2 separate regions of the Homo sapiens genome follow, and region 1 is linked to region 2. The links come from fine-mapping of genetic effects on gene expression. A gene starts in region 2. The other region holds a variant in brackets. All regions are shown on one strand. Distances are from middle to middle. Region 1 overlaps IL2RB (interleukin 2 receptor subunit beta). Region 2 holds the start of IL2RB (interleukin 2 receptor subunit beta).

Evidence for each region. PIP is the estimated chance that this variant, and not a neighbour inherited with it, causes the effect.
Region 1: its variant is fine-mapped to the expression of IL2RB in whole blood (TOPMed, PIP 0.98).

What each region holds. Positions count from the first base shown.
Region 1 is chr22:37,116,953-37,132,568 of GRCh38, reverse strand. It overlaps IL2RB (interleukin 2 receptor subunit beta), which reads left to right. Exons shown (of 10, transcript NM_000878.5): 9 at 101-185; 10 at 3,721-6,726. The coding sequence ends at 4,473. Among named protein-coding and RNA genes, the nearest start is that of TMPRSS6, 15 kb to the right of the region's middle. RefSeq lists an enhancer at 5,372-5,421. The variant C/T (reference allele first, on the strand shown) is at 4,565.
Region 2 is chr22:37,144,785-37,157,645 of GRCh38, reverse strand. It overlaps IL2RB (interleukin 2 receptor subunit beta), which reads left to right and starts at 7,730. Exons shown (of 10, transcript NM_000878.5): 1 at 7,730-7,821. RefSeq lists enhancers at 7,360-7,471, 7,554-7,585, 7,668-7,690, 9,394-9,443 and a promoter at 6,865-7,820.

The DNA.
Region 1 (15,616 bases), 26 kb after region 2:
TGCGGCTCCGTGCCTGGCATCCAGAGCTGTGGTGCCGATGGCATAACACCGCGGTCCTTCCCTTTCTCACCCTCCTCCTTCCCTCCTCTCCTCTGTCCAGGCTGAAGAAGGTCCTGAAGTGTAACACCCCAGACCCCTCGAAGTTCTTTTCCCAGCTGAGCTCAGAGCATGGAGGAGACGTCCAGGTAGGAGGCCGGGGCGGGGAGACAGAGGTGGGCAGGGGTGTGAGTGGGATGAGGGGGTGGCAGGTTAGTAGCTAATTTTGTGTTTTGTGAGAGGAGACAAAACGCCGAAGTGAGCAGCCTCCGGGGTGTGCATGGGTCTCTTCTCCAGCTCTGGCACTTTCCATCTGAGCCAGACTGCCTGGGTTCTAATCCCAGCTCCACCACATTCTGGCTGTGTGACCTTGGGCCTATAGAGCCTCCCTGGGCCTCAGTTTCCCCACCTGTTAGATGAGGAGAAAAACAGTGTTACTATGTGTCCTGCCCTGAGTACATTGCCTGGCACGCAGTTAGTGTTCAAAAGAACCCTATCAGGCTGGGTGCAGTGGTTCATGCCTGTAATCCCAGCACTTTGGGAGGCTGTGGCAGGTAGATCACGAGGTCAGGAGTTCGAGACCAGCCTGACCAACATGGTGAAGCCCTGTCTCTACTAAAAATACAAAAATTAGCCGGGCTGGTGGTGCATGCCTGTAATCCCAGCTACTCAGGAGGCTGAGACAGGGGAATCGCTTGAACCCAGGAGGCGGAGGTTACAGTGAGCTGAGATGGCACCACTGCACTCCAGCCTGGGCGACAGAGTGAGACTCCATCTCAAAAAAAAAAAAAAAGTACCCTATCTGGTATTACCGTTGCCGGTGTGCTGAACGAACAGGACCTGCCAGCACAAGCTCTCTCCACCCCACTGTCTGTGCAGACATGCTCTGTGCTTCTCCTGTCCCTGCTCAAAATTCCTGAGCAGGCTCCATAACTTAGCGTGGATACTAACAAGTCTTCCCGTCACTTTGAGTCACAAAACACCGATTCATTTTTAAAGTGCCGGCCCGCAGATCAGTAACGCTCTAAACTCCATCTCAGATTCCGTCGTCTCCTCTTCCCCAGCCCATGCCCCCTTCAGGCAGGAAGCTTCAAGAATGAAGGGGGGACATGGGGGGTACTTTTTACCACCCTAGCCCCACTCTAGGCTCCCAAGATTGGGGGGTGGGGATGAGGTAGGGGCAGAGGGAGGTCAAGAAGAGTGGCGGAGGAGGAAAGCCATGCCGGACCAGAGCTGTCATGACCTGGCTTTGGAGTTCTCTATCAGGGCTGATCAAGGGCCCCTTCTGGAACTCCTTGGAAAACTCCCAAGATGAGAATATCTTAGTTGCAGTGCTTTTATTTATTTATTTATTTATTTATTTTTTGAGATGGAGTCTTGCTCTGTCGTCCAGGCTAGAGTGCAATGGCACGACCTCAGCTCACTGCAAACTCTGCCTCCTGGGTTCAACCGATGCTCCTGCCTCAGTCTCCCGAGTAGCTGGGACTACAAGCACACACCACCACACTTGGCTAATTCTTGTACTTTTAATAGAGACGGGGTTTTGCCATGTTGGCCAGGCTGGTCTTGAACTCCTGATCTCAGGTGATCTGCCCGCCTCGGCCTCCCAAAGTGCTGGGATTACAGGCGTGCGCCACCGTGCCTGGCCATTAGTTGCAGTACTCTTAATGTGCGGGAATGTATTTCCTTAAAATTCTTCCCTCAGCCTTGAGGGTAGCAAGATTCCCATCTATAAAGGTATTCAAGCAAGCCATGGTTGCCTATGTGTCAGAAGCATAGAGATTCTCCCATTGAACTGGTTGGAGGCTGCGGTAGATTAGCTGCATGCTCAGATACCTTCCAGCTTCAAGTCCTGATTCTATGAACCTACAACATCGTGAGGTGGGAGCTGCAAACCATTCCAGCTTCCCATGAGGGTATGGTATCCTTGGGTCTAGTGTGTGGAGCGGGGTCCTGAGGAAGAAGGCATGATGTGGCTGGGGGTTGGGGATGGCAAAGCAGGCCCCACCTTTTCTGCATCTGGGTGAGAGACCTACCCCTCCACCCTAGGACCCACAGGGGCCACAAGGCCCACCCCCACTTCCCAGGGGATCGTGGAACGTGTGTGCGAGTGTGGGAGTATGTGTGAGGGGCGTGAGTGTCTCCTGAAGCCCCTTTCAGGGCATTGTGGGCAGAGGCTCAGGCCCAGGAAGTAGCTGGCCACAGGCAGTGGGTCCCTGGCTCACCGGCACTGGCCACAGGCCTGGCCGCTCCCTCTCTGGCTGCACACACAGGGCTGCTGTCTGGCCCCGCCCTTGCCCTGGGTATCATGAATCTCACCCGACCAGTGCTTCTTCCTCTCTGCCCAGCCAGCGACCCTCTTTGCCATCCTCAGTTTATCCTTTCTGCCTCTCTCAGCCTTTTCTTTTGTGACATAACTCCTGGTTGCAGAAAGGGGGCGGATTTAATTGAGTGGTGTGTGCACGTGTGTGCATGTGTGCATGCATGTAAGCGTGTGTGTGTGTGTCTGCGGAGCAGCTGGCTCAGCCTCAGGGACTCTCCCTGGAGAGGAGAACTGGGCATTTGTTGCTGGTTCATTAATTCATCTGAAATAGATCCATGAGACCCGCCATGCTGGGCACAGAGGCCTGGGGAGCCCATTGGGCCTGGCCCCTGTGCTTAGGGGGCCATAGTCCAGCTGCTGAGGGTTCCCAGGACAGAGGGTTGTCAGGGCTCCCAAACTCACCCACCCGAGGCCCCTGCCACACCACCAGGAGGGCCTGCTGTCCCCCACTCTGCTGTGCAGTCTGTGTCTTACCCGTTTTGGGTGTTTACATCTCCATTTGCTTACCTGATGTCTCCTTGGTGACCTGATGGGTGACAGCAAGGAAGTCAGGAGAGACGTGGCTGTTGTGGAAACTGAGGCCCAGAGAGGTGCAGGGGCCCTCCCAGGGTCACACAGTTAGTGAGTGCCAGGGCCAGGGCTAGAACCCGGGTCTTCCCACTCCTTGCCAGGGCTCTCTGGAATCCCGAGCAACTGAGAAGTGCTCTGATGGGCACTTTCCTCTCTCTGGGGATGGGAGGCGGAGGGGGTGGGGGTGGGGACTGCAGGGAACTGGGGGAAAGGTGAATCAGGAAACCATCAGCTCCCCCAAGAGACGTTCCCACCACAGTGTAAGCGGAGACCCTGGGTCCCAGCTCTGCCGCCTGCTGGTCTGTGATCAGGGCCAGGGCATGTCCCGTCTCTGGGCATCTGTAGGGTGAACAGGCTGTACTCTCAGTGCCCTTCTGCTTTGGCATGGGTGGATCGATTCCCACACTTGTGCTAGTGCCCACTAGACAGTCTGAGGATTCTCTCCTTTCCTGGGTCCCCAGCATCTAGAACAGTGCCAGGCTCATAGCAGGTGTCCAATAAACAGTCACTCTTGAGCAATCAGACATTCCTGGGCACTACTGGCAGCCAGGCAGGCCTGTGCTGGGCTGTGGGTCAGGCAGTGTCCCTGGGCTGGTGGCCCAGAGGGCCCCCAAGCCAGTGGGTGGGTTGGGGGAGTGCGGGGCTATAATCAGGGAGAGCTTCCTGGATGGGGCAGCCCTGGGCCAACTGCTTCAGGAGGAGGAGGAGTTAGGAGCTGTTGAGAGTCCAGAGGAAGGGGTGGAGGGTGAAGGAAGCCCCCACTCACCCACCCCTGGCCTTTCTCCCACCAGAAGTGGCTCTCTTCGCCCTTCCCCTCATCGTCCTTCAGCCCTGGCGGCCTGGCACCTGAGATCTCGCCACTAGAAGTGCTGGAGAGGGACAAGGTGACGCAGCTGCTCCTGCAGCAGGACAAGGTGCCTGAGCCCGCATCCTTAAGCAGCAACCACTCGCTGACCAGCTGCTTCACCAACCAGGGTTACTTCTTCTTCCACCTCCCGGATGCCTTGGAGATAGAGGCCTGCCAGGTGTACTTTACTTACGACCCCTACTCAGAGGAAGACCCTGATGAGGGTGTGGCCGGGGCACCCACAGGGTCTTCCCCCCAACCCCTGCAGCCTCTGTCAGGGGAGGACGACGCCTACTGCACCTTCCCCTCCAGGGATGACCTGCTGCTCTTCTCCCCCAGTCTCCTCGGTGGCCCCAGCCCCCCAAGCACTGCCCCTGGGGGCAGTGGGGCCGGTGAAGAGAGGATGCCCCCTTCTTTGCAAGAAAGAGTCCCCAGAGACTGGGACCCCCAGCCCCTGGGGCCTCCCACCCCAGGAGTCCCAGACCTGGTGGATTTTCAGCCACCCCCTGAGCTGGTGCTGCGAGAGGCTGGGGAGGAGGTCCCTGACGCTGGCCCCAGGGAGGGAGTCAGTTTCCCCTGGTCCAGGCCTCCTGGGCAGGGGGAGTTCAGGGCCCTTAATGCTCGCCTGCCCCTGAACACTGATGCCTACTTGTCCCTCCAAGAACTCCAGGGTCAGGACCCAACTCACTTGGTGTAGACAGATGGCCAGGGTGGGAGGCAGGCAGCTGCCTGCTCTGCGCCGAGCCTCAGAAGGACCCTGTTGAGGGTCCTCAGTCCACTGCTGAGGA[C/T]ACTCAGTGTCCAGTTGCAGCTGGACTTCTCCACCCGGATGGCCCCCACCCAGTCCTGCACACTTGGTCCATCCATTTCCAAACCTCCACTGCTGCTCCCGGGTCCTGCTGCCCGAGCCAGGAACTGTGTGTGTTGCAGGGGGGCAGTAACTCCCCAACTCCCTCGTTAATCACAGGATCCCACGAATTTAGGCTCAGAAGCATCGCTCCTCTCCAGCCCTGCAGCTATTCACCAATATCAGTCCTCGCGGCTCTCCAGGGCTCCCTGCCCTGACCTCTTCCCTGGGTTTTCTGCCCCAGCCTCCTCCTTCCCTCCCCTCCCCGTCCACAGGGCAGCCTGAGCGTGCTTTCCAAAACCCAAATATGGCCACGCTCCCCCTCGGTTCAAAACCTTGCACAGGTCCCACTGCCCTCAGCCCCACTTCTCAGCCTGGTACTTGTACCTCCGGTGTCGTGTGGGGACATCCCCTTCTGCAATCCTCCCTACCGTCCTCCTGAGCCACTCAGAGCTCCCTCACACCCCCTCTGTTGCACATGCTATTCCCTGGGGCTGCTGTGCGCTCCCCCTCATCTAGGTGACAAACTTCCCTGACTCTTCAAGTGCCGGTTTTGCTTCTCCTGGAGGGAAGCACTGCCTCCCTTAATCTGCCAGAAACTTCTAGCGTCAGTGCTGGAGGGAGAAGCTGTCAGGGACCCAGGGCGCCTGGAGAAAGAGGCCCTGTTACTATTCCTTTGGGATCTCTGAGGCCTCAGAGTGCTTGGCTGCTGTATCTTTAATGCTGGGGCCCAAGTAAGGGCACAGATCCCCCCACAAAGTGGATGCCTGCTGCATCTTCCCACAGTGGCTTCACAGACCCACAAGAGAAGCTGATGGGGAGTAAACCCTGGAGTCCGAGGCCCAGGCAGCAGCCCCGCCTAGTGGTGGGCCCTGATGCTGCCAGGCCTGGGACCTCCCACTGCCCCCTCCACTGGAGGGGTCTCCTCTGCAGCTCAGGGACTGGCACACTGGCCTCCAGAAGGGCAGCTCCACAGGGCAGGGCCTCATTATTTTTCACTGCCCCAGACACAGTGCCCAACACCCCGTCGTATACCCTGGATGAACGAATTAATTACCTGGCACCACCTCGTCTGGGCTCCCTGCGCCTGACATTCACACAGAGAGGCAGAGTCCCGTGCCCATTAGGTCTGGCATGCCCCCTCCTGCAAGGGGCTCAACCCCCTACCCCGACCCCTCCACGTATCTTTCCTAGGCAGATCACGTTGCAATGGCTCAAACAACATTCCACCCCAGCAGGACAGTGACCCCAGTCCCAGCTAACTCTGACCTGGGAGCCCTCAGGCACCTGCACTTACAGGCCTTGCTCACAGCTGATTGGGCACCTGACCACACGCCCCCACAGGCTCTGACCAGCAGCCTATGAGGGGGTTTGGCACCAAGCTCTGTCCAATCAGGTAGGCTGGGCCTGAACTAGCCAATCAGATCAACTCTGTCTTGGGCGTTTGAACTCAGGGAGGGAGGCCCTTGGGAGCAGGTGCTTGTGGACAAGGCTCCACAAGCGTTGAGCCTTGGAAAGGTAGACAAGCGTTGAGCCACTAAGCAGAGGACCTTGGGTTCCCAATACAAAAATACCTACTGCTGAGAGGGCTGCTGACCATTTGGTCAGGATTCCTGTTGCCTTTATATCCAAAATAAACTCCCCTTTCTTGAGGTTGTCTGAGTCTTGGGTCTATGCCTTGAAAAAAGCTGAATTATTGGACAGTCTCACCTCCTGCCATAGGGTCCTGAATGTTTCAGACCACAAGGGGCTCCACACCTTTGCTGTGTGTTCTGGGGCAACCTACTAATCCTCTCTGCAAGTCGGTCTCCTTATCCCCCCAAATGGAAATTGTATTTGCCTTCTCCACTTTGGGAGGCTCCCACTTCTTGGGAGGGTTACATTTTTTAAGTCTTAATCATTTGTGACATATGTATCTATACATCCGTATCTTTTAATGATCCGTGTGTACCATCTTTGTGATTATTTCCTTAATATTTTTTCTTTAAGTCAGTTCATTTTCGTTGAAATACATTTATTTAAAGAAAAATCTTTGTTACTCTGTAAATGAAAAAACCCATTTTCGCTATAAATAAAAGGTAACTGTACAAAATAAGTACAATGCAACAAAATAGTGTTGATATTCATTGCCTGCGGTAAACCTGTTGTCTCTTAAAGGGGAAATGAGAAGCTGCTGGGGAGCTGTCGAAGACATCCCAGGGCCAAATGCAAACTTCCTCCTTGAGAGAAAGGAAAAGGATTGTAAAGGGAATATCTTTTTCACTAATAGGAGTCAGGACTGTCTGTCTTATTCTGTGTCCAGGTATCAGCTCATGGCCATATCCCACAAGTCTATGCCTGGGGAAATATTGCACTTGATGACGAATCTCTCTCTCTCTCCTCTCTCTCTCTCTCTCTCTCTCTCTCTCTCTCTCTCTCTCTCTCTCTCTCTCCCCCCCCCTCTATCCCCCTCCCTCCAGATAGGTAGATAGATGATAGATAGATAGTGTCCTGATAAAAGTTGGACCAGACCAGGGATGGCAATTCCTGGCATTCATAAAGCCACACTCATGGCAGACATTACTAATCAATTGCACCCATGCACGGCAGACATTTCTAATTGAACACAGCTCTCCTCCTGCAGAGCCTGGGTGCAGCTTCAGATTCTGCAATGCTGCGCTATAGGCAGCCCCCAGTTGGTCACAGCTGATAGCTGATGACATCTCTGGACCGCATAATTCCTCAGGTTCCTAACACAAAAGGAGCTCTTAGGTTTCCCAACTCCGATTTCCCAGGCAGGGAAAACTGAAGCTGAGAGGATGGAGACTGGAAAGCTGAGAGGGACCTGTGAGAGGCAAGCCCAGGGAGCCCAGCTGTCCCCACCATGTCTGGTGAGAGACTTGAGCTGGCAGGGAGCAGAGTCAGGGCCACCTTATACCGGGTGCAGATGAAGGGATGGGCCAGCGGTCACTGTGTGTCATGCCCAGTGTGGATCCGAGTGTGGATCTTGGGAGAGGAGACAAAGAGGAAGCAGCTGGCGGCAGGGGTGGTGGTCAGATTGCAGGAGGGGCCTGGGTCAGATTCAGGAGACAGGAGCGGCACCAGCTGGGGACCGGGCAGCCGCTGGGGCCCTGGAGAACCGTCAGGTACAGAGCGGGAAGCAGGAGGCAGCCAGGGCAGATCTTGGGGGTAAGAGAAAAAGGAGGAGAGGTGGGGGGAGGGGGGGGCCTTCCAGCCTCTCATGTTTCCTCTTTGTTGAACTAGGTTTGTTATTTTGCTTCCTCCGTTCCCCCACCTCCCATCTCTCATTCGAAGCAACTTCAGGTGCCTGCATTTCCCAAGTAAATTATGGTGGAAACTGTAGGCCCAGGTCCAGGATGAAGCACCCACCACTGTCCTCCTCATTACTGACAGCTGAAAAAACAGACCAAGGAGGACAGTAAGAAGGGGCAAGAGAACCAATACTTCCACTCTACACATTGTGCCAGCATGGCCTGGGCGTCATCTCTCATCATCTGGAAACAACCTTGAGAAGCAGGTGCTTTATTCCCCATTTTGCTGATTAGGAAACAGGCCCAGGGAGGTGGAGCAACGCAGCTGATGGTTGGTAGCATCAGGATTCAAACTCAGGTACATCTGACTCCGGAGCTTTTGGCCCTTAGCATACAGAAGGCTACATAGGAGATAATTATACTAATGGGAAAATACCTGGTAAAATTTCATTCTAAGCTTCCTGGCAGTCAACTTCGGGGGGAAAATAAGATGCCATGATCCATTAGTGTGATTGTGGGAGAAAAAGCAAAGCCCTTTGATAGTTTGGCAGGTAGATGGGGCTGAACGGTGGCCAGGAGAGAAGGCTGAGGGCGATGCTGGTTGGTCAGGCCGAGGTGGTCTTACCTCCTCCTCCTCCGTAACTGCTGAGCCCCTCCTACTGCCTCCACCCTCCAAGCTGGTCCAGTGTCCCTCTGGGCCAGCATTTCACTGGCTTCTCCCACCCCCACCCTGGTGACCTCCGTGCCACAGACCTGACGCCATCACCTCTCACTCGTATGCCTGCTCAGCCTCCTCCTCGGTCTGCCTGTCCCCACAGCCGCCTGCCCCTCTGATCCTTCCACCTCTGAGCCCTGCCAGGCTGATCTGGCTAAAGGTCGTATCTGGCCACACCACATCCTTGCTAAACCTCCAGTGACCCACTGTCATTTTCAGGATAATGGCTGAGGTCCTTAATGTGATCGTCCATGGCTTGGGGGACTTTGGGGAGGTCCCATCTGCTCTTATGCCTCAGTTGCCCCATCTGTGAATTGGGCAGGCAGATTGGATGATTTCTAAGTGCTCTCCTAGCCCTGACATTCTGTGGTTCCAGGTGCCACATGGAATATGGCTTAAGGCCTGGGCTACATGTATTTTACATCAAGAGTTCACGCTGGGGTTGGGGGGTGGGGATGAGAGTAGGGATTGCAACTGACTCATTTGCTTGGCACCTGCTGATCCCTGGGTTTGAAGTAGCCCTGCCCTGCCACCCAAGCTATCTACCCTCAGGTTCCTATGCATCCCTCAGAACCCCACTCAAGCATCTCTGCTTCTGGCAGGCCCTCTGATTTGCCCCCAAGTAGAGTAGATTACTTCCTCCTACTGTCCCCCTCCTGAGCTACCTCTGTTATAACCAACTGTTGTGCCGTGGGTCAGAGCCTGGGCTAGATTCTGGGGATCTAAGGGTGATACTAATAGCTTTGGAAGAACATCAGGTAGAGCCCCGTTAGCTCAAGACTTTAGTCAGAAAAGCCAGGCACAAGAAGACTCTGAAAGGACCTTCTAATTGGGGAAGGAGGGTGGAATGTTGGGTGGAGCTTTAGCAAGGGGGCTCAACTGGAACTCAGCTAGTTTTGGTTATAGTTGATTGAGGATGGTGCTTGGAAGAGAGAGGAATTGTTCTTGCAGATTAGCAGCCACTATTTGACAATTTGGGCTTTATCAACAGGCAGTGGGGGAGGGACAGCTTTGGGGTCAAGGATCTGTGAGAGCCACTGTGGAATGTTCTCGGTCCTTCAAAGTCTTCGAGAACTGCATGTATTGAGCACTTAGATGCGTCAGACTCTGTTATAAGCACATTGATCCTTCCACTCTCTGGAAGCATCCTTAACTCACTGGATCCTTAAGCAAATGCCATGAGGGAGGTACTATTCTTAGCCCATTTTATAGCTGAGCCTATGGCTCAGAGTGGCCAAGTGACTTACCCATGATCACACAGCTAGAATGTAGTGGAGCAAGTTGAACCCAGGCAATATTTAGCACCCACATGGCACAGCTTCTTACAGCTTCTAAAGGGTGTGCACCCCTGGTATCCCACACAAACACACAGTGACCTACCAAGATAGGAATGACAGAGGTTCTAAGTCTTGTTCCTCAGTAGAGGCCCAGAGGCCCTGAGGGGATGGCGGTGCCGTGTCCCGGGCCACACAGTGCGTTTGGTAGTGGGGGAGGGAGTGTTGATTAAATTTGAGCTCACCACCAGCACCTGTGACAGGCCTGGGACATCCCCTAGGCTGACTTGCTTAGAGACATTTTCCACCACCAGGGCTATGACACACTCGAGGCTCCCATCACAGAGCCTGGCAGAAAGTGAGGCAGGAAGCGCTGAGTGGTGAGAGACGCAGGTCGGGTAGTGGAGGGGGGAGTGCCCAGTCTACGATTCCAGGAAGCCAGGATGCAGACGGAGGGAGGAGCAGAGCTGGCAGACAATGTCTCATCTCCCATTCCTCTATTTACCTGGCCTCATGCTGGGCACTGGCCACAGAGAGGAGGCCGGCTACTGCTCTGTCCACAAAGAGTCTCCAACCTTGTCTGGGAGGGAGTGACTCTGGAGGACACATACAAGTAGACCAGCTGATCACAGCCCTCCTTCGGTGTGGAAGAAAATCAACCCGGTCCTGTGAGCACAAGCCTTGATCAGGAAATGGTGCCAGTGAACACTCTGGTGGAGTCTTCTAACCTGGGGAGGAATTGTGGAATGCCGTGCGGGGCTTTAGCAAGAGAGGCTGAGCCAGAGTTCAGGTAGTTTTGGATAGCTGCTTGAGGATGGTTCTTAGAAGAGGAAGGAATTGTTCATTCATTCATTTATTCATTCAACAGACATTTAGGAGGGCCTAGTACCTGCAAGTCACGGTGTTGGGGATCCAGCAGCGAGCAAAGCCCCCTTCATTCTACACTTTCAGCCTTTGTGGACACCTTGGGGCAGTGTGGCATAGTGGTTATAGCCTTAACTCTGGAGCCCCGCAGCCGGGTTAAGTACTGGCCCCCTCACTCTGGAGCCCCGCAGCCGGGTTAAGTACTGGCCCCCTCACTCTGGAGCCCCGCAGCCTGGGTTAAGTACTGGCCCTGCTGCCTATCAGCTGTGACTTTGGACAAATACCTAAGCTTCTCCGTGCCTCAGTTTTCTCATCTGTAAAAGGGGACAATACCAGGACTGTTGTGAGGATGAAAGAAATAATTGAATGTGGCAGGGTGCTGTGGCTTGCACCTGTAATCCAGCACTTAGGGAGGTCCAGGTGGGAGGATCCCTTGAGCCCAGGAGTCCAAGACCAGCCTGGCTAACATGGTGAGACCCTGTGTCTACAAAAAATATATACAGAAAATTAGCCGGGCATGGTGGTACATACGTGTAGTCCTAGCTACTAGGGAGGCCGAGGTGGGAAGATCCCTTGAGCATAGGAGATTGAGGCTGCAGTGAGCATTGATCGTGCCACTGCACTCCAGCCTGGGCAACAGAGTGAGGCCCTGTTACAAAAAAAGAAGTAAGTTAATGTAAAGTACTTAGGAGAGAAGAGCTAGCCGTGGGAGAGACAGACAGAGACAGGGCTGTGACCAGGGCAGCCAGGGGCCAGAGATGTGGAAGCTGCTGACTTGCTGGCTGGCCTTTTGGATACTCTGTTGCTGTGTTGGTGATGGCTGTTTGGGGCAGGGGATGAGCTGGACACCTGCAGGCTTGGTGTCTCCTGCCACCTCCCTGCCCTTTCCAACCTCCTAATCCTGACAGCTCATCTCCCTCAAGCACCTGGGTAGGTCTTGGGGGATGATGGTTTGAGATAAGGCCCAAATCTATGATGACAAGATTCTAGGAGGTGTGACAAATGCTGAAGGAAACCTATGAGGTCTTCTTCCTACCTCTCAAATCCAGCCGTGCTGGCTGCCACCCGCCTAGCTCAGGGCCGAGGACATTTTGTCCCTCCCAATTCTGTACCACTTGGCCCCTTTGAGCCTCAGTCTCTTCATCTAAAATGGGGTGAAGAAGTGAAATTTCAAAGGCCGGGTGCGGTAGCTCACTCCTGTAATCCCAGCACTTTGGGAGGCCAAGGTGGGTGGATCACCTGAGGTCAGGAGTTTGAGACCGGCCTGACCAACATGGTGAAACCCCATCTCTACTAAAAATACAAAAAAATTAGCTGGGCATGGTGGCCTGCGCCTGTAGCCCCATCTACTCAGGAAGCTGAGACAGGAGAATCACTTGAACCCAGGAGGCGGAGGCTGCAGTGAGCTGAGATCGCGCCACTGCACTCCAGCCTGGACAACAGAGTGAGACTCTGTCTCAAAAAAAAAAAAAGAAAAAAAAAAAAGATAGCCCACCCTGTGCCCAGTAACTACTGCTCATTCATTCTAATCTATTTATTGAGCTTCTACTATGTGCACTGGACTGTTCAAATTGGACATTTCGGTTTGAGAGAGCTCGGGTTGCTTGGAACGGGCTTGATGGTGGGTGGCTGGCCGTCCCCGGCCAACGGTCCAGTGATTCTCGTAACAGTGGGTGTAGGAGAGCACCCGTTACACTGTCAGTCCGAGCAATCAGCCAGGAACGGTACATGTTGGCGAGAGAATTCTATTGCTTGTAATTTATGCAAATATGAAACTAACAATGAAACCTTTGCTGCTGGGATCCCAAACTCAGATGCTGACAGGGACTGGGGTTTGGGTAGATATTAGCTGCAGTGATGAAATGCTGATGGTGTACACCCAGTAGATGCGGGCCCCGTTCTAAGTTCCTCACACAGGTTCTGTCAATCTTCACAACACTTAGGCTTACTGTCTCATTTTCTATATGAGGAAATGAAGGCCCAGTAAAATCAAATACCTTGTAGCTCAAGGGCATGTGGCCAAATAAGTGGTGGAGCCAGGACTCAAACTCAGGCTCCTGACTCTAGTAACTCTTTTTAACCCATGCAGTGTGATACAATAGGGAGTGGTGAGGTCTGTGTCAAACCGAAATTGCTCCAGGGCAGCCATCGCTGATTGTTGCCATGTTGGGGATCAGCTAGGTCATCTACTTTTTTTTTTTTTTTTAAGACAGAGTTTCACTCTTGTTGCCTAGGCTGGAGTGCAATGGCGTGATCTCAGCTCACCGCAACCTCAGCCTCCCGGGTTCAAGCGATTCTCCTGCCTCAGCCTCCCGAGTAGCTGAAACTACAGGCACGCACCACCACGCCTGGCGAATTTTGTATTTTCAGTAGAGACGGGGTTTCTCCACGTTGGTCAGGCTGGTCTTGAATTCCCGACCTCAGGTGATCCGCCCGCCTCCACCTCCCAAAGTGCTGGGATTACAGGCCTGAGCCACTGCGCAGGCCTGATCTTCTACATTTTTAAGAGAAGCTGAAAATTCAGTTTTTCCTGCAAAGTGTCCTTATTTTTAAATATTGGCCACTCATCTTTTAAAAACAGAAAACAAGCAAGCCAAGCAAAATGTGTCTGCACGGTAGAGAGGGAGGGAGAAAGGAAGAGCATCCTGCGGGATTTATTGTAAAGATCACTTCTTCCTGACCCCAGGTGTGCTGGCTGCTCCGTGCCCCCACCCCCTGCTTGCTGAGCTCAGCTGCAACTCTCTCCAGTTAACGATCCTCGATCCTCCGTGATCCATCCATTATTGAATCCCAGCACCTGCCACAGGTTGTTCGTTGAATGGATGTGTAGGTTGGTAAATGGGCAAAGGGGAGGAGGGAAAAAGGAAAAGGAGAAAGGAAGGAAGGAAAGGTGGGAGGGGAAGTTACTTAGAGGCTTTGAAAACCTGGAATGACCAAGGTTCTGAGAAACCAACGTGGAGGGAAGAGGCAACAGAGCCGACTGGTATCAGGAGCTCTCTCGGGCCCACCAAGTCAACAGCTGTCTGACACAGATGACCAAGGAGAATAGAGGTACTCGGGGAACCTGAGTGAGTGCTGGGGTCTTCCCATGAAAGGGCAGCAGGAAAGAGCCTCCTTGGGGAAATTTAGGTGTCTGTGACCTTGGACAGGGCCCCCTTCAAGGGCAAGAGCTAGTCCCACAAACCGGACTGTCTTTAGAGGAGGCTCTGCCTGCAATGTTTTGAGGCAAAAAAAAAAAAAAAAAAAAAAAAGTTGAAAATTGCAATTTTGTGTCCTTTGGAAATTTTTGTTGACTCTCTGCCTAAAGCCTTATGTATATGGAAATAAGTAATATTGTTCTTTTGTTTTAGTTTTTAGAATTCATTTTTGGACAGTATACTGGGAAGAGTACAGGCTGGGAATCAGGTCACCTGGGTTCCAGTCCCAGCCCTGCCTCAGCATTGCTGTGCAACCTTGGGTAGTCTCCACCCACTCTCTGGGTCTGGCTCCCTGATGTGGTTTGGCTGTGTCCCCACCCAAATCTCATTTCAAATTGTAGCTTCCATCATCCCCACGTGTAGTGGGAAGGACCAGGTGGGAGGTAATTGAATCATGGGGGCAGGTTTTTCCCATGCCGTTCTTGTGATAGTGAATAAGTCTCATGAGCTCTAATGGTTTTGTAAAGGACAGTTCCCCTGCACACACTCTTGCCCGCCACCATGTAAGACGTGCCCTTACTCCTCCTTTGCCTTCTGCCATGATTTTGAGGCCTCCGCAGCCATGTGGAACTGTGAGGCCATTAAACCTCTTTTTCTTTATAAATTACCCAGTCTTGGGTATTTTTTCATAACAGCATGAAAATGGACTAATATAGTCCCCCTATCTGTTCTGGGAGCCCCACCTGCTACAATCCCACAGTGGAGGAGAAGGTCAGGCTGAGTGATGCATGCAGAGTTTCCATTCTGTGTCCCCAAGGTGGCTTGAAGCAGCCCCTCCCAAACCCCAAACCCCTGATCAGCATCTGTACCCCGACTGCCCATCTGGGAAAGAAGCGACTGGGCATGCCAGGGCCTGGTGGTGAGTTTGTCCTAGCAGCATCTTCAGACAGAGGCCAGAGGCCAGGACCCAGGGCTGAGACAGAGGCCGAGGGCTCAGGAGTGGTGGTGTGGGCAGTGGGAAGGAACACAGAGACAGGAGAAGGTGTCACTGGGAAGGACAACTGGCTCTGAAGCCAGAGGGTCCTGGGTTTGAATCCAGCTCCTAGCACTTCCTGACTGTGTGACATCAAGCAAATCACTGCTCTGAAACTCCACTTTCTCACCTCAGATGGGTGAAGTGACCATTTTTCTTATTGGAGATCAGGCCTATCCTGGGTCTGGTTAGCTGTATTGTAAGCCATAGATTATTCTAAGCCTTAGGATCCTTAAATCCCTGTACAGATGGAGGAAGACAAGCCACAGAGATGGGGACTCCTGAGAGGTCCCACACCTGTTGGTGACAGGCCATTCTGGTGGATTCTTATTCCTCCAAGCACATAAGAAGCATCTCCATGTACTGCTGAGGGTCCTGTCCTCCACCGGGTGCTGTCACGTGGTGGGCGGGGCCAAGTGCCTGCCAAGCTTCTGTCCCACTGTCTGTTTCCCTAGGCTTGGCAGCTTTCTTCAAGGGCAGCAACTGAGACTTGTTCTATTTCTTTTACATCTTTGTTCTTGTTCTTTCTTTTTTCTTTTTTTGAGATGGAGTCTTGCTCTGTCGTCTAGGCTGGAGTGCAGTGGTGGATTTCGGCTCACTGCAACCTCTGCCTCCTAGGTTCAAGAGATTCTCCTGCCTCAGCCTCCCGAGTAGCTGGGACTATAGGCGCCTGCCACCACTCCCAGCTAATTTTTTTGTATGTTTAGTAGAGATGGAGTTTC
Region 2 (12,861 bases):
TTAGTCTGAGTAAGTAGGGTGGGAATATGGTGACCAACTTTGTCCTAGGAATATCACTGTAAATCTTATGTTCTGGAAACCCCCCTCAGTCCCAGGCACAGTGGGACAGCTGGTCACCTTGGCGCGATCCTGGTAAGGAATGGCATGGTTTGCACAAGATAGGAGCTGCTCAGGGCGCTGGTGCTGGTGTGGCTATGAAGCAGGCAGCTCCCGGATGAACAGGGAAGAACGTGGGGCTTCAGGTCTGGAGCCTGGGGGGCTGGCGTGGAGGTGGCTGCTGTGGCAAAGCAGAAGTAAGGGTGATGGCTTGGAAGGAGGGGGTGAGGGAGGGAAGGAGTCAGGGAGAATGGCCACAGTCTGTCTTGGGGACTGGTGGGTGGGGCGCCTCCAGTGAAGAGCAGGTGTCAGCAGAGGGGCATGCTCGGAGGACAGCCCTCAGGAAGTCGGCCGCTAGCCTGCTCTTTCTCCTTGTTCTGCTCTGGCCCCTCTGTGGGCCCCTGCAGCTTTGTGATCCTCATTTGTCATGAGGGGTACCCCACAGTCTGATGGGGACTGGGCGGAGGGTCAGACACCAAATTATGTATACCATAGTCCTCCTGACCAGGGACCAGGACTCAAAACCAGGTCACTGGTGAGGCCTGGCACTGTGGGGGCAGGACTTTTTTTCCAGCTGGGGACTCGGCTACCTGCTGACTTTCCAGAAGACAGGTCACAGCACCGAGCAGGGGTGGGCGGAACACAAGGACTTGAGGGTGGGTGACAGTGTCAGCTGGCTGAGCCAGGGAGGGCAGGAAGGGAGGTGGCCCTGGAGATACTGGAGGTCTTCACAATGGCAGAGGACAGGCGGTGGCAGAGACAGTGAATGGCACCCCCAAACCTGCTCTCCCCTGCCCGTGTGCCCTCTACTTATAGCTGGCTACATCTCCCAGCCTCCTCTGCAGCTTGGTTGGCTATGTGACTCAGGCGTAGCCAATGGGATGTACATTAGAAGTGGCTACGGCAGCTTTGGGGAAGGGTCCTTAACAGGCAGAGGCAAGCCCTCCCTCTCTCCTTCCTTTCCCTTCCATCTGCAGGAACGCAGAGGTGATGGGTGGAGCTTGAATAGCTCTCTTGGTCTATGAGGAGATGGGAGAAGGATATTGAAGAGACCCTAGTAGCAAGCCAGATTTAGCTCAGGATCCTGACATCATAAAGCCACCCCACCTAGCCTGGGTGGCCTCCCTTTGGACTTCTTTTATGTAAGAGAGAAATAAAGCCCTCTCTTATTTTAGGTCACTGTTTTCTTCTTCTGTTCTCTTTGGACACACGCAGCTGAACTTCATCCTAACTGGGACACTGTTGTACAGTGGAGGCGGTGATGGCAGCACGCGGGTGAGCTGAGGTGGAAGTTCAAGGGGTCTTGGTTAACACAGGTCAGAATGATGGCAGGGTGCAAGTGCAGGCCTGGGTGTGGGACTGGTATGGAGCAGTTCAGAGGGAACAGGAGGCTGGAGGCTACAGTGTGGACCCTGACATCTCCTGGGAGGCGGAGTGGAGAGGGAGGCTGAGCGCAAGGGCCAAGCACTCCAGTGAGCAGAGGGAGGACGGGTAGGGCGTTTGGCAGATACCAGGACTGAGGAGGATGCAGTCTGGCTTGGCCCCAAAAAAGACAGCCCAAGGACATCAGGGCTGGAAGACCCCAATATGCCCTTGTCCCATGGCCCCTGTGAAAGAGGGGTCTGGGTCCAGTGGTGGGAGGGCTGTGGGACTGGGTGCATGGAAACAGAGGGTATGAGGCGGTTTGTTCCCAGTGGGACCCATGAAGATGCAGCGCAGAGGGTCAGGTGGGGATGTGGAAGACGTAAGAGAAGTAGTTATAGGAGCAAGGCGTGGAGCTCGTGGAGGAGGCTGGGTCCAAACCCCAGCACTCCTGAGACCCAGGTCTGGGTAGGCCCGAGTGGGCTCTGTCAGGGCTCTGCCATCAGAGAAGCTTCTGGATTACATCTCAGGTTGCCTCAGAGAGAATCGGATGTCCTCTGGGACAGACCTAGGTTCTAATCCTGGCTCTGCCACATTCTGGTAGGATGACTCATGAGGCCTGGTTTCCTGGCCTGTAAAATGGCAAGGGAAGAGCAGGCTCAGCATGCACAAAGCCCTGACAGAGTGAGAAAGCACAGGAGGCAGGGTCAGAGATGAAGATGGGGCAGTCCCTGTAGGACATGTGGGTCAAGACTGAGAGTTTGGATTTTACTGTGAATGCACTGGGAAGGTTTGAGTGTGTATGATGGGGAGTGGCTGGGGGGTGAAATGACGTGATTTGAGTTTGGGAAAGGTTGCTCTGGCCGCTGAGTGGAGAACAGACCAGAGAGTCAGGAGTATTAATAGAAACAGGGAGACCAGGGCGGAGGCCACCATGGGCCTGCTGAGGTGGGAGATGACACGGCTCTGAGCAGGGCAGGGGCTGAAGAAAGCAGGTGCACCTCTCTGCACACCCCTGCTGGCCACCCATGCCTCTGGGCTTCTGCTGGCGTACTGTCTCACCCCTCCTCACCTGGTTTTATGTTCAGCTGTAGCACCTGGGGGACAGACTGTATGAGTCAGAGAAAACAGAAACAGCAGTCCCCAGGTCTCAGAGGCCCAACAATAGAGGTTTATTTTTCATTCAAGTTATAGCCCAGTGTGAATTGTCTGAGGAGGGGTGAGGGCCTGTCCTTCAAGGGACTCCAGCCCCTCTACCCAAAACTTCACTGGATTCTGGCAGGGGAGGGGAGAGAGAGAAAGAGATAGAGGGATGGCCGGCCGTGGTGGCTAACGTCTGTAATCCCAGCACTTAGGGAGGCCAAGGCAGGCAGATCACGAGGTCAGGAGATCGAGACCGTCCTGGCCAACATGGTGAAACCCCATCTCTACTGAAAATACAAAAATTAGCTGGGTGTGGTGGTGTGTGCCTGTAATCCCAGCTACTCGGGAAGCTGAGGCAGGAGAATTGTTTGAACCGGGGAGGCGGAGCTTGCAATGAGCCGAGATCGCGCCACTGCACTCCAGCCTGGCTACAGAGCAAGATTCCGTCTAAAAAACAAAAAAAAAAAAAGAAAAAAAAAGAGAGATAGAGGGATTAAGAGACACAGGAGATCATAGGTGAGATTTTTTTTAGGCCTAGAAGTAGAATAAATCACTTCCTCCCACATCCCATTAGCCAGACTTGGTTCTGGAGCCCCAGCTCACTGCAAGGGAGGCTGGGAAGCAGACCCGAGCTGATGCCGGGAGGAGGGTGCACGCCATGGCCTGGGGACCCATTCCACCAGGTTTCCCTCCTACGTGCTCCCACAGGCCATGAGGTGTTACATAGAGGATGTGAAGGAGAATCATTCTCTGCGTAGCCCCCTCCCTGCCTCTCCATCTGAGGTGTTCTGGGCTAGGACCCTTGACAAAAGAACAAACCGGCTCCATCCCCTGTCTCCTGGGGTGGGAGACTCTGTATGTGGGGGCTGCACCATCCCCCATTCTGCTCCCCACTTTCCTGGCTGCTGCACATCTCAGGGGCACGAGGGTGGAGAGTGGCCTACCTCCCTCCCTTGGTCCTACCCCGCTGGCCTGGGCTGCGCGCCTCAGGCTTCCTGTGTCTGACCTGGTCTTTGGGGCATCTGGGGTGCTCAGTAAATGTTTGTTGAATAAATAAAAGAAGGAAAGCAGGATGAGGAGGAAGAAGAGTCTTGGGCAGTATGTGCCAGGCAGACTGATGCTGTCTCATGGATGAAATAGCTGTACGCAGCTGCTCCTTGCAAGCTGGGTCTGTGACTTCTGGCTTTGGCTGCGGATGCATTTTTCTTTTCTTTGTATGTGTGTGCTTTTAAAGTTTTAACTGAATTCATTTATTTGGGGGCAGGAAATATGTTCATGCCATACAAAAGGGTCTATAGAGAAAAGCGTCCTTCCTAACCCTTCCTCACCTGGCTCTCCTCCCTGAGACAACCGGCGTTCCTAATTTCTTGCAAAGCTTCTGGGAATATTTGAGGCTTAATAAATGTTGGCTGTTATTCTCATGGTTGTGGCTGTTGTGTTTAGTATCCTCTCCTGCCGCCAGACAGCCTTACTCTAGAGGAGAGGGAAGGGCAGTGTGGAAGGAACTGGCCCTTACAGCAAGCCTGCAGTGCGTGGTCACATTAAATGCTTTATACACACCTTCTTGTCCAGTTCTCCCTTCATTTGGTAGGTCTGCACACTGAAGCACAGGGAGGCCTAAGTCACAGCCTCAATCTCCAGTCCTGCCCCTCCTGGGCAGCAGTGCTCCACGCTTCTTCTTTTCCAGCAGCGGGCTTTGCACATGGGAGTTGGGCCTGATTCTCTTTTTGGAGTCTTGAATTCCACTTTTCTCACATTTGCAGAGCTGCCGTCTCTGCTCTTCTCTCTCTTCTTCTCAGAAGAGGTGGCAGGCTGGGCGCAGTGGCTCACACCTGTAATCCCAGCACTTTGGGAGGCCGAGGGAGGTGGATCACCTGAGGTCAGGAGTTCAAGATCAGCCTGGCCAACATGGGGAAACCCCGTCTCTACTGAAAATACAAAAATTAGCCGGGCATGGTAGCACGTGCCTGTAATCCCATCTACTCGGGAAGCCGAGGCAGGAGAATCGCTTGAACTTTGTGGGCAGAGGTTGCAGTGAGCCGAGATTGTGCCACTGCACTCCAGCCTGGGTGACAGAGCTAGACTATGTCTCAAAAAAAAAAAAAAAAAAAAAAAGAGGCCACAGCTTGCAATAAAACCCCTCTGAAACAGGGAATCAGGAAAGGGAAGAAGCAGAGCTGCTGCTTCTGGGCTCTGAGGATGGAACTTCACAGGGTCTATGGGGCTGTGATGTAGCACGTAAATAGATGTGCATTTTTCTAAAGACCAATCCATAAGTTTCCATCATTTAAAAAAAAGAGCCCTGAGCTGAGCTCCCACGCCACCCTTCTCCCCCGCCAAAAAAGGGGGAGAAGGGTTAGGAACCATGACTTGAGAGGAAGAGGAAGGTTCTAGAATGTTCAGTAAGTGACCATCAAATTGTTCACAAAGACCTGATAGTCATCTCTGGGAAGTGCTAGCTAGAACAAACAGACAAGAGAAAGAAGTAAAGGGCATCCAAATTGGAAAGGAAGAAGTCAAATTATCCTTGTTTGTAGACGATATTATCTTATATTTCAAAAAGCCTAAAAACGCCACCACAAAACTATGAGAACTGATAAACAAATTCAGTTAAGCTGCAGAATACAAAATCAACATACAAAAGTTAGTAGTATTTCTATGTACCAACAGCAAACAATCTGAAAAAGAAATCAAGAAAATAACTCCATTTGGAATAGCTACAAATAAAATAAAATACCTAGGAATAAACGTAACCAAAAAAGTGAAAGATCTCTATAATGAAAACTATAAAACGTTGGTGCAAGAAACTGAAGAGGACACAAAAAATAAAAAGATATTCTATGTTTATGGATTGGAAGAATCAATATTGTTAAAATGTCCATACCACCCAAAGAAATATACAGACTCAATGTAATCCCTATCAAAATACTAATGACATTCTTCACAGAAGTAGAAAAAATAATCGTCAAATTTATATGGAACCACAAAAGATGCAGAGTAGCCAAAGCCATCCTAAGCAAAAAGAGTGAAACTGGACAAATCACATTATCTGACTTCAAATTATACCACAGAGCTACAGTAACCAAAACAGCGTGGCGCTAGCGTAAAAACAGATGCATTGACCAATGAACCATTGGTCAGAATAGGGAACCCAGAAACAAATCCACACACCTACAGTGAACTTATTTTCAACAAAATTGCCAAAAACATACCTTTGGGGAAAGGCCAGTCTTTTCAATAAATGTTGCTGGGAAAACTGGATATCCATATGCAGAAGAATGAAACTAGACCCTCATCTCTCTTCATATACAAAAATCAAATCCAAATGGATTAAAGACTTAAATCTGAGACCTCAAACTATGAAACTACTAAAAGGAACATTGGGGAAACTCTTTAGGACATGGGACTAGGCAAAGATTTCTTGAGCAATACCCCACCAGCACATGCAACCAAAGCAGAAATGATAGATGAGATCACATCAAGTTAAAAGGCTTCTACACAGCAAAGGATGCAATCAGCAAAGTGAAGAGACAACCCACAGAATGGGAGAAAATATTTGCAAACTATCTGACAAGGGATTAATAACTGGACTAGATAAGGAGCTCAAACATCTTTATGGAAAAAAATTATAGAAATCCCATCAAAAATTGGGCAAATGATCTGAATAGACAGTTCTCAAAAGAAAACATATAAGTTTATGAAAAGGTGCTCAACATCATTGATCATCAGAGAAATGCATGTCAAAACTACAATGAGATATTATCTCACCTCAGTTAAAATGACTTTTATCCAAAAGGCAGGCAATAATGAATGCTGGTGAGGGTGGGGAGAAAAGGGAACTCTCGTACACTGTTGGTGGGAATGTAAATTAGTACAACCACTATAAAGAACAGTTTGAAGAGTCCTCAAAACACTAAAAATAGAACTACTATATGATCCAGCAATCCCACTGCTGAGTATATACCCAGAAGAAAGGAAATCAGTATATGGAAGAGACATCTGCATTCCCACATTTGTTGCAGCACTGTTCACAATACCCAGGATTTGGAAGCAACCTAAGTGCCCATCAACAGATGAATGAATAAAGAAAATGTGGTACATATATGCAATGGAGTACTATTCAGCCATGAAAAAGAATGAGATCCTGTCTTTGCAACCACATGTTTGAAACTGGAGGTCATTATGTTAAGTGAAACAGGCCAGGCACAAAAAGACAAAGCTCACATGTTCTCACTTATTTGTGGGAGCTAAAAATTAAAACAATTGAATTCATGGAAATGGGAAGGGCAGTGATGGAGATGGGAAGGGCAGTGGGGGTTGGAGGGGTGGGGATTGTTGTTGGGTACGAAAACAGAATTAGATCGAATGAATAAGATCTAGTATTTGATAGCATAACAGGGTGACTTTAGTCAACAATAATTTATTGTACATTTAAAAATAACTAAAAGAGTATACTTGGATTTTAACACAAAGAAAGGATAAATACTTGAGGTGATGGATACCCCATTTACCCTGATGTGATTATTATACATTGTATGCCTGTATCAAAATAGCTCATGTGCCTCATGAATATAGACACCTACCACATGCCCACAAAATTAAAAACTAAAAAAAACAGTCATCTCTGAATGCTAAACGGAGTAAGGGGCTTCCTGGAAGGCTGGGTGAAATGGGAGTCTCGGAAAGATGGTGTGTTGCAGGCTGGGAGGAGGGTGAGACGCTGGGGTCACCTAGAGGGACCTGCTTGTGTGAAGCCTACGTATTAGTGGGTATGTGTGTGACCGGATGGAGGCGTCAGAGGTGTTGGGTAGCCTGTGTGAGTTGGCGTGGGGGTGATGTAGGAGGGGAGAGAGGGAGGGCCTGCGTTCCCTTGGCTCCTGTGTGCAGCTAGGCCCCTATTTGACAATGTGTGTCTGTGTGTGTGTGTGTGTGTGTGTGTGTGTGTGTGTGTGTGTGTGCCGCCCCCAGCGTAGGAGGCAGATCTTTATCTGGCCCTGGGTGCTTGAGGAGTTTCAGGCTTTCTCATAAGCCTCGTCTCCCCGCCTCTCCACCCCAGGCCTTGCCCCTCTATCCTCTGCACAGGAAGTGGGCTGGCTCTGGGCTTTTAGTCTTTGCGGCCCCAGCAGCCAGAGCTCAGCAGGGCCCTGGAGAGATGGCCACGGTCCCAGCACCGGGGAGGACTGGAGAGCGCGCGCTGCCACCGCCCCATGTCTCAGCCAGGTGATGTCCCCCTGCCTCCCTCCCGGCCCCTGTGGACCAGCCAGAGGGCTGGGAGTGAAAGTCACAGAGAAGACTTTCAGCTCTGACTCAGTTCCCCCAGCAGTTTCTGCCTGAACTCCCATCCCCCAACTTTGTCTTAGAATTCCCCTAGGGAGGGGTTGGGCCCAGCTCTCATGGCTCCTGGCTGGAGGAAAAAGCGGTCCCCAGTCCCAGGTCAGCTCTCCTTCCCAACCCATTCAGGGGAGGCTAGGGACTGCTGTGGGATGAGGGGCTTCCCTGGGCTCTGTGTGCTGGGCCCCCAACCCGGAGAGGTGGAGAAGGGATGGGTGGATAGCCTGGGTGCCCGGAGAGGGTACGGGATATGGGGTGGGACAGGCGGGAGCCCCCTCCTGACCTCTGTGGAGTGGGGCCCATATACCGGGGGAGGCAGCCCTGTGTTGCGTGCTCATCAGGAGGCTTGTGGAGTAAGTGGGGACAGAAGGGTCCCCTTGGAGAGCCATCTATGAAGTGAAGTTGCTGCGAGGCCTCTGGGAGCCCCAGGCTGGAGGCAGAGCCCTGGGTTTGAGTCTGGGTTTGTCCCTCCCTTGGCTGCATGACTGGACAGGTCAGAAGCATCTCCGGACATTGGGGATGGGACCCTATCTTTGGGGCTGCCTGGAGCTCATGCTCTCTCCTCTCCTGGGGGCCGAAGCCTCCCACTCTTAACTGTGTTTGTAGCACCTCGGGGGAGGGAGGTGGAGTGAGGAGCTGAGCTATCCCCAAGGGTCCCCTTCCTTCCCCCACAGCCAGGGTCCCGCACCCAGCTGGAGAAGCCCCTGAAGTTAAATAGCAAGAGACAAGCACTGTGTATGGGAGCAGGGGGGTGGCAGGTGGAGGTGGCCAGAGAGGACGAGGGGACATAGGCCCCATTGAGTTCAGAGGTCAAGTTGGATGAACCATGGGCTCCCGAGCTCCTGCTTTACCACCCTGCCCCAGCCACCATATACCCCTGATGGCAGCAGGGGCCCCGAACTGCACCTGACCAGGTTCAAATCCCAGCTCTATGCCCTTCTCGCCTGGGTGAGAGGTTGACCCGTTTCTTAGTCTCCTCATTTGGCAAAAAGGAGGCATACTAGAGCCTCCTCATGGGGCTGTAGGGAGGGCTAAAAGCTGAACTACCCCCGAGCGCTCAGGGCAGGCAGTGTAGGCAGAGAGAGAGCAGGCACCAGTCCCTGTCCCCAGCAGCATCTCTCTGAAAATCAGATGGCTGGGGTCAGCCGCTCCGGGCTTCAGTTCTGGCATGGATCAAATGGGGCAGCAAGACCCACCTTGCAGGGCTGTGGTGGGGACGTAGGCATCCGTGGGTGTGACCAGTTTCAGAGTCATGAACGACAGGGCACGTGTGGGTGTGCCTGAGGACCCAGGAGGGGGTGCTCAAACTCGAGGTCCTGGGCTCCACTTGCTGTCACCCGAGGCTGGGCTTCTCCTCACCGTGCAACCTTAAGTGGGTTCCTTGGCCTCCCTGAGGCACAGCTTCCCCATTGCAGAATGAGGGTGCAGCCTCAGTGACTGCCAGGCGCTCCCTCAGCTCTGTGCCCCTCTGGCACCCCCACACCATCCTCCCGTGGACTCTGCCCTCTCCGAGCATCGCTGCACCTCTGAGCTCCAGGCGGCGGGAAGCAGACTCCAGATGGCGCTTTCTCCTCCTGCCCGGCTGCCTCTAGGCTGGGCCTGTGGTTTACCCCTAACCTTCCTTTGACCTTGCACCCCTTTGTCCCTCAGCACCTTCCTCACACACTGGGGCTCTCTGCAGTTCCTGTCCTGGGCATGGGGTCATCCTGAGGCTGGGCCCGACCTGGGGTGACACCCACACAAAACATTGATGGTCCCCTTGCCCCAGGGCCAGGTTGGCATGATTGAGCGTGAAGGGGCATAGGGGCTATGGGAGTCCCCTGGTTGGGCTATGCACTCTTTGGGGTCCCAACCCTGTGCCCTCTGCTATTGGGGGATCCCAAGAAAGAGGTGAGCAGCCCCCACCCTGGGGAGCTCACCCTCCTGTGGAGACGGTAGGCCAGGCAAAGGCGAGCCCATGGTACCCCGAATAAGCACCTGCCAGTCTGTCTGTGAGCTGCTGGGTCCTGACTCCCAGGACAGAGAGGGTGGCAGCCTTACCTCTGGGACCAGTGTCTGGCAGGGTGGGACAGCATGAGAGAGTGAGCCTGGAGCCCTAGCTCCACCTCTTACTGTGTTTATGACCCTGGGCAAGTTAGGGGCTTGGAGCCTTAGTTTCCTCATCTGTAGAATGGGATAATAAAGCCATTGGGCAGCTTAGACGAGCTGGCATATGTGAGGCACTTGGCCCCAGGCCTAGCATAGAGTATGTGCTCAGTACACAGAACGAGTATTATTAGTTCACCAGTGCATATTTACTGTCGTGTGAGCTGTCGTGGTGGGAAGATGCGTCTGGGGAGTTCCAGGAGGGGAGGATCCCTGCCTGGGCACTGGGCAGTCTGCCCTGACTCAGATTCCAGAAAGGCCTCTTATCCACTGCATGACCTTAGGCAACGCACTTCACCTCTGTGTGCCTCCGTTTCCTCATTGGAAAATGGGGATAATAAGAGTATCCCCGCCAGAGGCCCTGATTGCTGCATTTAAAGAGTTTTAAATGGAGCCTGGCTTACAGTAACCTGTCAGCCGATGGTTTTGGTGTGACTAAGGGGGTGGCAGAGCGGCGTGGAGTTGGGTTCTGATCCCAGCTCTGTGCTGGGCTCCTGATGTAACCTTCAGCAAGTCTTTCCCACTTCGGGACCTCAGTGTTCTCAAATGTAGAACAAGGGACTGTGCTTGCTCAGAGAGCCTTTGCAGCTTTGACAGTGCGTGGGCCTCTGACTCTCACTCCTGTGACATCTGCCTTAGGAGATGGAACCCATGGCTCTTGGGGCCAGGGTGTGTGTCCCTGCTCCATGCTGGCTCTGATGTAAGCCACGAGACAATCCAGGGCCACCTAAAGAGCTCTGCTTTTTTTTTTTTGCCGTACTGAGGCCTCTGACCACACTCATTCATTTCACTACATTTATTGAGCACCGACTGTGTGCCCGGCCCTGTGCTCAGCAGTCCCTGGAGCGAGTGTGCTGGTGGGCCAGCCCCTGGTCAACGCCGGCCCTGCTGCTGCCAGCCTAGAGGGAGGAGCAAGGCGCTCAGAAGAGGAAGCCCTCGCCCTCCATCACGGAAATCAGGGAAGGCTTCATGGAAAAAGGCATGAGGGCCCGTTTGAAATGGGCTTGAAGGATGGCAGGATCTGTAGGGGACCCAGGGAAAGGATAGACTTGGGAAGGACCTTTGGAGGGTGAGTGTCGGTTTCCTGGTCACCTGGAGCCACTGGCTTGTGCAGGCAGGTAGGTGCGGTGTGTGTGTGCTTTGGCCTGGGTACATGCACCTGCTCCTGTGAGGGCAGGGTCTGGAAGGGTGGGCTGACCTCATTCCGGTCCCAGAAAGCCTCGAAAATGGGAATTTAGGCTTTGATTGCAACAGGGCCACTGCAGGTTCCTGGGCAGGGATGTGGGTGGTTGGAGGCGGGCTTCAGGGAAGGCAGGTGAGAGCCTGCAGATGGGGTGGTGCCGTTGTCTGGGCTGGAACGGCACGAGGCTGGCCTGGTGAGGGTGGGGAAGAGACAACAAGTAGTCACTGGAGTGTCCTGCTGTCTGAGGAGAGTCCTGACTGGCTAGGTATGGGGGCAAAGGTCACCTGGAATAGGAAGGGTACAGTTGTCCCAGAACTGAAAGTCAGACAGGAGAAGAGCTGGGGATGAGCTGGGTTTTTGCCGGGTCCAGGAGCATCCCCTGTGAGGGGGTCCTGCAGACCATCGGGAGGGACGTGGAGGCTTGGGGCTGAGCTGGAGAAAGACCCTGGGAAGCTGAGGGCTGGAGCCAGTGAGAGGCTCAAGAGAGAGAAGGGAAGGGGAGTGAGAGCTCGAGTTTGGAGCCGCTGGAGAAGGGGGAACAGCGGGGGAAATGCCCAACGCTCAGGAGCCTTGGAAGCTCTCGAGATGGAAGAGCAGGAGGGAGGGAAGGATGTTCCACCTCCTCCACATCTCTTGACTCACCTGCTCCTCTCCCCTCTCCCCCTGCCCCTCTGACTGAGGCTACCCTCATCTTTCCCTGGAAGCTCCCTCCTCATCTCCCTGCCTCCCCCTTTGCCTGCTCCAAACACCTCTCCTGGAAGCAGTCCCCTTATCTTCCCGAAGTGACCATGTGCTCACTTTCTCATTCCCCTCCGCACACCCAGCCCCTGCAGAGGGTGGGGGCAGCTACTTTTCTTTCCCATTTCCGCTGCGACAGTTGTGGTCTTGCCTCACGGGAGCTTCCACGGTTGGCTAGAGGTTCCCTGAGAAGCAAGTCTTTGTCTCAAAAAAAAAAAGTAAATAAATAAAGCACTGGCCAGTGGCCAGTGCATAATAGGCACTCCGGGAAAACTTTTGAGCCTCCCTCTGACAGGGCTGGCTTAGAGATTTCATGTCTCTTTCCTCCCTGGGGTATAATCTGGGTGACCAACCTGGCCCTGCCTCCAGGGAGCTTCCAGGCAGGTAGGGGAGTACGAGTGTGGACAAGGTCCTCCGTAAAGGCTACTGCAGCCCTCTGTGCCTCAGTTTCCCCTGTCCTCTAGGGCTCTTCAGTGTTTGGGTCAGAGCTCCTATCTGCTTTTCTGCTTTTCCGAGTTCGCGTCCTGATGCCTTCACACCATTGCCTCAGCTCCCTCGAGGGACAGTGAGGGGCAGAGGCAGGGGCTAGCCTCAGAGCCCTCTGGAAGCCCCTCTACCTGCTGACTTTAGCTCTGTCTATATTTATTCCATCACTTGTTTGTTCAAGAATTTTTTTTGGCCAGATGCCTACTATGTGCCAGGCACTGTTCTAGGAATTGTGGACCTAGCAATGAACAAAACACAAAAATACCTGTCCTTAGTGAGCTTACGTGACTCTGTGTGTGTTTGTGAAGAGAGATAGAGGAAAACATGAATCAGTCAATAAACGATGAATAAATAATGCTATGATGAAAATGTAGGGG